Homo sapiens: one gene and its partner. The protein of the gene in region 2 purifies or fractionates together with the protein of the main gene of each other region. This does not show direct contact. Each region holds a gene or a part of one and is shown on either strand. Other genes may lie near its edges.

Evidence for each region.
Region 1: the proteins of AXDND1 (region 2) and UNC5CL purify together in Homo sapiens (affinity purification with mass spectrometry; one large-scale study listed by BioGRID and IntAct). This does not show direct contact.

What each region holds. Positions count from the first base shown.
Region 1 is NC_000006.12:41,026,112-41,029,248, forward strand, and holds the end of UNC5CL (UNC5C-like protein), read right to left. Parts: intron 2,485-3,137; coding exon 2,262-2,484; 3' UTR 784-2,261; downstream 1-783.
Region 2 is NC_000001.11:179,364,353-179,368,950, reverse strand, and holds the start of AXDND1 (axonemal dynein light chain domain-containing protein 1), read right to left. Parts: upstream 2,970-4,598; 5' UTR 2,951-2,969; exon of another isoform or gene 2,606-2,950; intron 2,548-2,605; 5' UTR 2,442-2,547; coding exon 2,345-2,441; intron 152-2,344; coding exon 1-151. UniProt on the Homo sapiens protein: May be essential for spermiogenesis and male fertility probably by regulating the manchette dynamics, spermatid head shaping and sperm flagellum assembly.

The DNA of each region.
Region 1 (3,137 bases), on a different chromosome or scaffold from region 2:
CTAATATGGTAGCTTCATTCCAAGGAAGAGTTTAAAGCACAAAGAAGAGCTGTTCTAGTTAGTATGAGTCAGGGCTAAATGTTAAGTCTCCTGATGCTCACTGGGGCACACCATCTCTCAGCATTAGGTGCCAATACATAACATGCCAAATGGGTTTGATGTGAGAAAGGAAGTGTCTGCCTTATAGGAATCACTTGGCCTGCATCTACCCCAGGATTTCCAAGCCTCCCTTTGCCAGCACTGGAAACGCATTTTGAGAAATTGGAGTTGGGGCCAGAAAGCATTCTATTCCCATCACTGGAATCTGTGTGGCTTCTATTTGCAACTCCAGTAGATGTGAAACTCTTAAAATGATTTTTTCCAGGGTAGGAAGGAACACAATGATGTCTTTGGCTAAACAGTGCCGGGCTACTGCACAGTTCAATCCTGAGCTAAGTGAAGGGGGAAAAGTCCGGGGCACTAATCTGGCGTGACTGGCAGCACCCGATGGGGTAAGGAGGACAGATGAGAAGGGTAGGAGAGGACTGGTGGGGATAGGGGAACAGGGAAGGGATGGAAAGGCCTGCTTCTGAAGGCTTGCATCTAACAGAAAAGGAAGGGAACCTCCCTGACTTACCATGCGGGACCCAGGTAATTTTCATACTGGAAGCACAATCTACAAAATGCTTCCCTCCAACCCATCCCCATAGGTACAATTTTACCAAATAAAATCATTCATACTCACATCCAAATTTGCCAATCTGAGCAAAATATAGTTAGTAACAAAGGAAGGCAATTTTCATATTTTATCATTCATCATAGAAAAAAAGCTTTAATATTTTTTAATTAAATACAGAAGAAAATTGTGTTGCCAGAGAGATTGTTTGCCTGCCTTTGAACAAATTAACAACACCTGTTTGCAAACAAAAGAATTTCCAGAATGGAGTCAAACCCTTTATTCTCTGTTCAGGACCCAGCCCATTCATGTCTTTTGTATACAGTATCAAACACATAGTAGGTGCTGAATAAGTATCTGCTGACTGAATGGGGTGCCTCTTTTATCCCTATCCTTTATTTCCCAACCCTAAACTGGATCTTGATCCATGGGGAAAATATCCCCACCCATCCATTCCTAGAGTAGCCCTGTCTCTTTCAACAGTCTTTGATACATAACATTGGTTTAGAGACATATGCCTGAAGGGAAAAGAGGGAGGGTTTCAGGCAGAGAAAGAAACACACAAAGACAGGGCACAGAGACTAGGCAGAAACAAAAAGATCTAAGACAGAGAGAGAGAGTAACTGAAACACAGGTGCAGAGCGGGAACAACTGTGGGAGACAGGGACAGAAAAACCAAGTCAGAGAAACTTAAAACGCACACCATTGGAGATAAAGAGATAAAAGGGCTGGGCCAGAATGATCATCTTGAAGTTTCTACTCAGCTTTAATGTTTTCTGATAGAGAAAATGGCAGAGAGAGAGGAAGACACGGCCTAAGCAGGAGGATAAAGAGACAAAGGAAGTTAGTAGAGGCAGAGGCAGCCAGCCAGGCGTGCCTAGCCGGGAAGCCTGGTCCTACCCCGGCCTCACACCCACGGGGATGGGCTCCCATGCCCACTTTCGGCTCCTACCTTAAGTCCAGCCACCCTCTTCCCCTACCCGCCCCTAAAGATCTCCAAACCACTCGGCAAATCAAATCCTCTCTCCCCAACATCCTCCGTGAAGCATTCTCGCTGCTCCAGCCCGCACTCAGCTCTTCCCCTCTCAACTCCTAAAGCCACACCCACCTCCCCTAACCACAGGGCAGGGCTGTTTTCGAGTTTGCCCTTGGCTCCTATGAGCACATCTTGACTCCTGCAAAAGAACTGTGTGCTTGTCAGGGCTCCAGACCCTACCTCCTATATTCCAGTATTCTTCATGACACCAGCCCAATGCCCGGTCTTCCTAAGTGCTCAGTGAATACTTTAGGGCCTGACCGGCCCTAAAGTGCACGCGGGGACCGTGGCCGTCCCCTGGTCAGTTTGGCAGGCTGGCCACGCTGAGGCCATCTCCTGGGCTCCTGCGCCCTCTGCCGGCCAGGAGGGGACCCGCACGCGGGACAGCTCGCGGCCGGAAGGGCGCGCCTGCTGCTGGGAGGCTGGCGAGGACGCGGGCGGCCCTGGCACCGTCCGAGGGTTCTGGGAAGGGTGGTGGGCACAGCCAGGAACAGCTGCTGTGTTCCTCTTAGGCGTAGGAGAACAACCCCTCTCGCCCCTACACCTCCTCCGGCCCTGCCCGCTGGGCGCTCAGAGCTTCTCGTCCAGCTCCAGGCCCTGGTTATCCCGGGCGCCCCCGCGCTCGGGGCCTGGGCTGCCGCCGTGTGTCCCACTCAGGTAGTTCTGGATGGCGGAGGCGCAGTCTAGCCGCTCCATGACGGTCATGAGGTAGTGCAGCTCCTGCAGGCTGCCGTTCTGCTCCTCAAACAACTCCAGGATGGCCGCTGCGGGGCTGCGCTGGCAGGACAGGAACCTGGCCCGAGGTAGGGGAGGAAGAGAAGGGTGTAGGAGCAGGGAGGGGCTCCCCCCCTGCTGCAGGCTCCCTGGGCTGCGCAGCGCAAGGTCCGTCCCTTCCCCATCCTGTAGCTTTTGTCCTTGTCCTGCTCTTGCCTGCCTTCCAGGGCACAGGAGGTGGGAAGCCCCAGGGCTTTGAAACTTGAGATTGTCCTGGCTTGGAGGCCAACTCTGACCCCTACTCCTCTCTAGGCTTCAGTTTCCTCTTATTAAGATGAGGGCTTAGACAAGAGGACCTCTAAGTTTGCTACAGTTCTGATGTTCTGTAATTGCCTTCTCTACCTCCCCCACTCCAAATACACCCCTAGCCTCCCCCTAGCCTCCTAACTCCCTCCTTCCTCCCTCTCTCCTAGGCCACAACATCCTGCTCACTACTAAGGAAACAGTTGCTGTAAACCATGGCTTTTTATCACGACTCTCCCGTCCACTAAAACCTTCCAGAGTCTCTCACCTCCTAACCAGCCCACGCTCCATGAGCCTTTCTGGCTCATCCAGCACCTGGCCTTGCCCTGTCTTTATGCTTTCTCTCCTTTCTCCCATCCTGAACCCCCTTAGCTCAGGCCTCTCTCTTTCTCGCCTTGCACACACTACACCCACAGCCACCTCTGCTAC
Region 2 (4,598 bases):
GGAGGTAGTAAGTTTTCAGGACAAGGACCAGCATTGGCCGCATAGGTCAGAGAAAGAAGAACTTCTTTGGGAATGAACTCATTCTGAAGGGAAGTAGGAAGGAGTTTTGAACGATCCACCATATTTTTTTTCTCCTTTAGCTCAGGAAGTCCTAAGTAAGTAGTGGAAAAGAAAAACTCTTACTATATATTTTTTTAAGTTAGATGGAGCTTCTCAGACTGCCTCATCAATCCCATCTGTTTCTAACAGAGAGAAACATTGCTTCTATTTGACAAAGATAGTAACAAATAATATTGAAAACAGTGAACATCATCTAGTCAAGGAAAATAACATTCATCTTGCCTACCCTACTCACATTACATCAGACACAGTTTCAAAAACTCAGGTACCAAGATGAACCTGCATGATTCTCAATTCAAAGTTGAAAACTAAACTCATTTCACTTGCTCAGGTAACTGGGAGAGCCTTAAGAAGACAGGAATGAATGTCTATTTTCCCTTTCATATGAAAATCACAAATCTCTCCCCCCAAGCTGTCAAATTATTTAGTAATTTTTTTCTTACATGAATTCAAAGGTGAGAATAATTGCATTAAATCGAGGCATTTATAGAGTGGAAAGGCTCTGGGTTGGGCTTAAAAGTAAAGATGGAACTGGGATTGTTGCAAATGAGAGTGGAACAATCTGAGCTGACAAATCTGTGGAATGGGAACTGTAAAAAGAGTGTTCTACCCTGCTTGACTAGGGCAGGGGAGTAATAAAGGCAGGTAGTTGGGATAATGTAGGAAAAGCCCTCCTATGAAGTCAGTCAGGTAGGGTTGAGTTGTTATTCTTCTTAATCTATGCCTGTAACATGGTATGGTTTATGTTTATTTCTATAAGGAGGTATCATGCTTTGATTACTATCAAAAGTTGTTAGGGTTTACATTACCAAATCTCCTGAGAGCTTGAGATCAAAAGAAACAGAAGAAAAAAAAAAAAGTTGGGTGGGGCTTGGGGTTTTAGTACAAGGTGCAGGTGAGATGGGAAAAGCTTTAACAGAACCGGGTAAGGATAACACTAGCTGACTCTAGTACAGATCCGCATATGAACGAAAATCTTAAGGAATTGCTCTCATTTAGAAAAATTACTAAAAGCTAATACAAATTGGCACATTGTACTAAATTGAGTTTCTCTTATCTCTGCTATTACTTTTTGTTTCTTTATTTACTTATTTGAGACCAAGTCTACCTCTGTTGCCCAGGCTAGAGTGCAGTGGCAAGATCTTGGCTCACTGCAACCTCTGCCTCCCGGGTTCAAGTGATTCTCCTGCCTCAGCCTGCCGAGTAGCTGGGATTACAGGCGAGTGCCACCACACCAGGCTAAATTTTGTATTTTTAGTAGAGACCGGGTTTCACCACGTTGGTCAGGCTGGTCTCAAACTCCTGACCTCGTGATTTGAGACGGAGTCTCGTTCTGTCGCCAGGCTGGAGTGCAGTGGCGCAATCTCGGCTCACTGCAACCTCCACCTCCCGGGTTCAAGCGATTCTCCTGCCTCAGCCTCCTGAGTAGCTGGGACTACAGGCACGAGCCACCACGCCCCCCCTAATTTTTGTATTTTTAGTAGACAGAGTTTCTCCATGTTGGCCAGAATGGTCTCAATCTCTTGACCTCGTGATCCGCCAGCCTCAGCCTCCCAAATGGGATTACAGGTGTGAGCCACTGTGCCCGGCCTATTTATTTATTTATTTTGAGATGGGGTCTTGCTCTTGTCTCCCAGACTGGAATGCAATGGCTCGATCCTGGCTCACTGCAACCTCACCTCCTGGGTTCAAGCGATTCTCTTGCCTCAGCCTCCAGAGTAAGCTGGGACTACAGGCGCGAGCCACCATGCCCGGCTAATTTTTGTATTTCTAGTAGAGACGGGATTTCATCATATTTGGCCAGGCTGGTCTCGAACTCCTGACCTCAAGTGATCCGCCCACCTCGGCCTCCCAAAGTGCTGGGATTACAGGCGTGAGCCACCGCGCCCTGCCTCACTATTACTTTTTCCAAAGTTCCTTAAAGCCAAAGACCAGGAACCAAAAAATACGTAACTATTGATATTTAAAATAGGTTGAATTTAAAATCATATATAAATCAACATTTGAAAAAAAGTATAAACTGTATTTAGATGGAGTAGTGAAACAGTACTCTGACTCAAAATACTGTAAAAGGAATGACTTCTTGCTTTATTTAAGCAAGTGTGTTAGAAAAATGTAGCCAATCAAGGTATTCTGAATATCAGATTTAAAAAACCGGTGAATGGAAGGTGATTTCTGTCTTACGGCCATGACTGTTTATGACTTCAGAATCAACGAAGTTTACCTCTTGTCCCTTCCTTGGCTACAGACACTTTTAACTTTTTGCTCTCAGATGTTGATGTAGAGTTTAGCGGGGTGGAGGGCGTTTTCGGGAGAGACATAATAAACAATGCCTCCTATCTCTTTAGTAATTTGAAATAGTCCTCCGGAAAGCTAATTTAGACACAAATCAGCGCCGCACTGGGACTTGCAGGCTGCCACATAGTCCTGCAGGCAGAGGAAAAAAGATTTAAAAAAAAAAAAAAAGATGACAACTATTGAGTACTTAGGTTCAGATCGCAGTTTAGAATTCATCTAGCATGGTTCTCCTTCTTCGGGGCGACCTCTATGTTCTGGGGTTATGTGTAGCGACTAAGAAGCCTTAGTGGACCGTCAGGTCGGGGTCAAGGAGCAGGGCAGGAAGGACCCGCTCGGCGGACCCCGCAGACCGCCGGCACCCCTGGTGGGGGACACTCGCTGCAGGCGGCTCGGCTGGGGACCATACCTTCCCCACAGGCAGCGCTCTCGCGCGCCAGTTCCACAAACTCGCGAGTTGGGCAGGCCTCGCACTGCTTCTTGGTTTAAAATGACGGGAAAGGGACACCCGCGATCCTACCCACACATTGCGTACCCGCCCAGCATCCGCTCACTTCCTCCTTTGCTGGAACGCCTGTTTGTCGTCATAGAAACCCAGGGCCCCGAGGTTTAGCGCCCTCCATAGGGGCTGCCTTCAGCGGTGCCGGCGGAGGAGGGAGACAGCTAAGACAATCCCTACACCCTCTTGGAGTTTCTTATGTTCTAAGTCACAGCATAGGTTCAGTAGCAAAGGAGAAGAAAAACGTTTAATCCCGCCGTTGTCACGGAATCCGAAAGTGTCTCACGCCGGGGCTTCCTGCCGCGGGCCAGGCCAGTGCGCAGGCGCCGGTGGGGGTTAGCTCGAGGGGCCGACCCCTGTAGCCCGTGACGCACGCGGGTTAAGCAAGGGTCTTCTGAGTTGTTTCCATCTTTCTAGCTCTCTTTTTTGTTGCTTTGCATATTTTTCTTTCTCTTTCTTCCTCTTTTTCTTTCTTTCTCTTTTTTTCCCCTGAGACGGAATTTCCCTCTTGTCGCCCAGGCTGGAGTTTAATGGTGCGATCTCGGCTCACTGCAACCTCCACCTCCTGGGTTCAAGCAATTCTCCTGCCTCAGCCTCCCAAGCAGCTGGGACTACAGGCAGACGCCACCATGCCCGGCTAATTTTGTAGTTTGTTTTTTGTTTTGTTTTGTTTGAGACGGAGTCTCGTTCTGTCGCGCTGGCTGGAGTGCAATGGTGCGATCTCAGCTCACTGCCACCTCCGCCTCCCAGGTTCAAGCGATTCTCCTGCCTCAGCCTCCCGAGGGACTACAGGCGGGGGCCACCATGCCCGGCTAATTTTTGTATTTTTAGTAGAGACGGGGTTTCACCATATTGGCCAGGCTGGTCTCAAACTCCTGACCGCGCCCGCCTCGGCCTTCCAAAGTGCTGGGATCATAGGCGTGAGCCACTGCGCCCGGACGCTTTGCATATTTTTCTAAAAGCCAGACTCAGGGGGATGTTGGGTAATAAGAAACGCTGGGTCCCTTATTGGGTAAGCCGTCCAGTGCTTTACATTTCGGTCACGTCTTCCTTGGACCCTTAAATGCCTCCCCCCAGAGCACAAGGAAGGCCTCCTGGGCCCAGATTTTTCACCCCCTTGGGGCAGGGAAGGAGGATTGAGCTTAGGTGGAACCAGCTCAGGTATAATTGTCGGGGCTTCTGGCGTGAAAATCTGCCCTCAGGAAAGAATACCATCAGCGGCCGGTGGCTCACGCCTGTAATCCCAGCACTTTCTTAGGCCGAGGCGGGTGGATCACGAGGTCAGGAGTTCGAGACCAGCCTGACCAACATGGTGAAACCCCGTCTCTACTAAAAACACAAAAATTAGCCAAGAGAGGTGGCGCGCGCCTGTAATCCCAGCTACTCAGGAGGTTGAAGCAGGAGATTCGCTTGAACCGGGGAGGAAAGGGTTGCGGTGAGCCGAGATGGCGCCACCGCACTCCAGCCTGGGCAACAGAACGAGACTCCGTCTCAAAAAAAAAAAGAGTATCATCAGAGCCTTCGCACTGAACTGAGGCTCGGTTCGGTGAGGGATCATTTCTTTTCTTTTCTTTTTTGAGACGGAGTTTCACTCTTGTTGCCCAGGCTGGAGTGCAATGGCTCGATCTCGGCTCACCGCAACCTCCGCCTCCCAGGTTCAAGCGATTCTCCTGCCTCAGCCTCC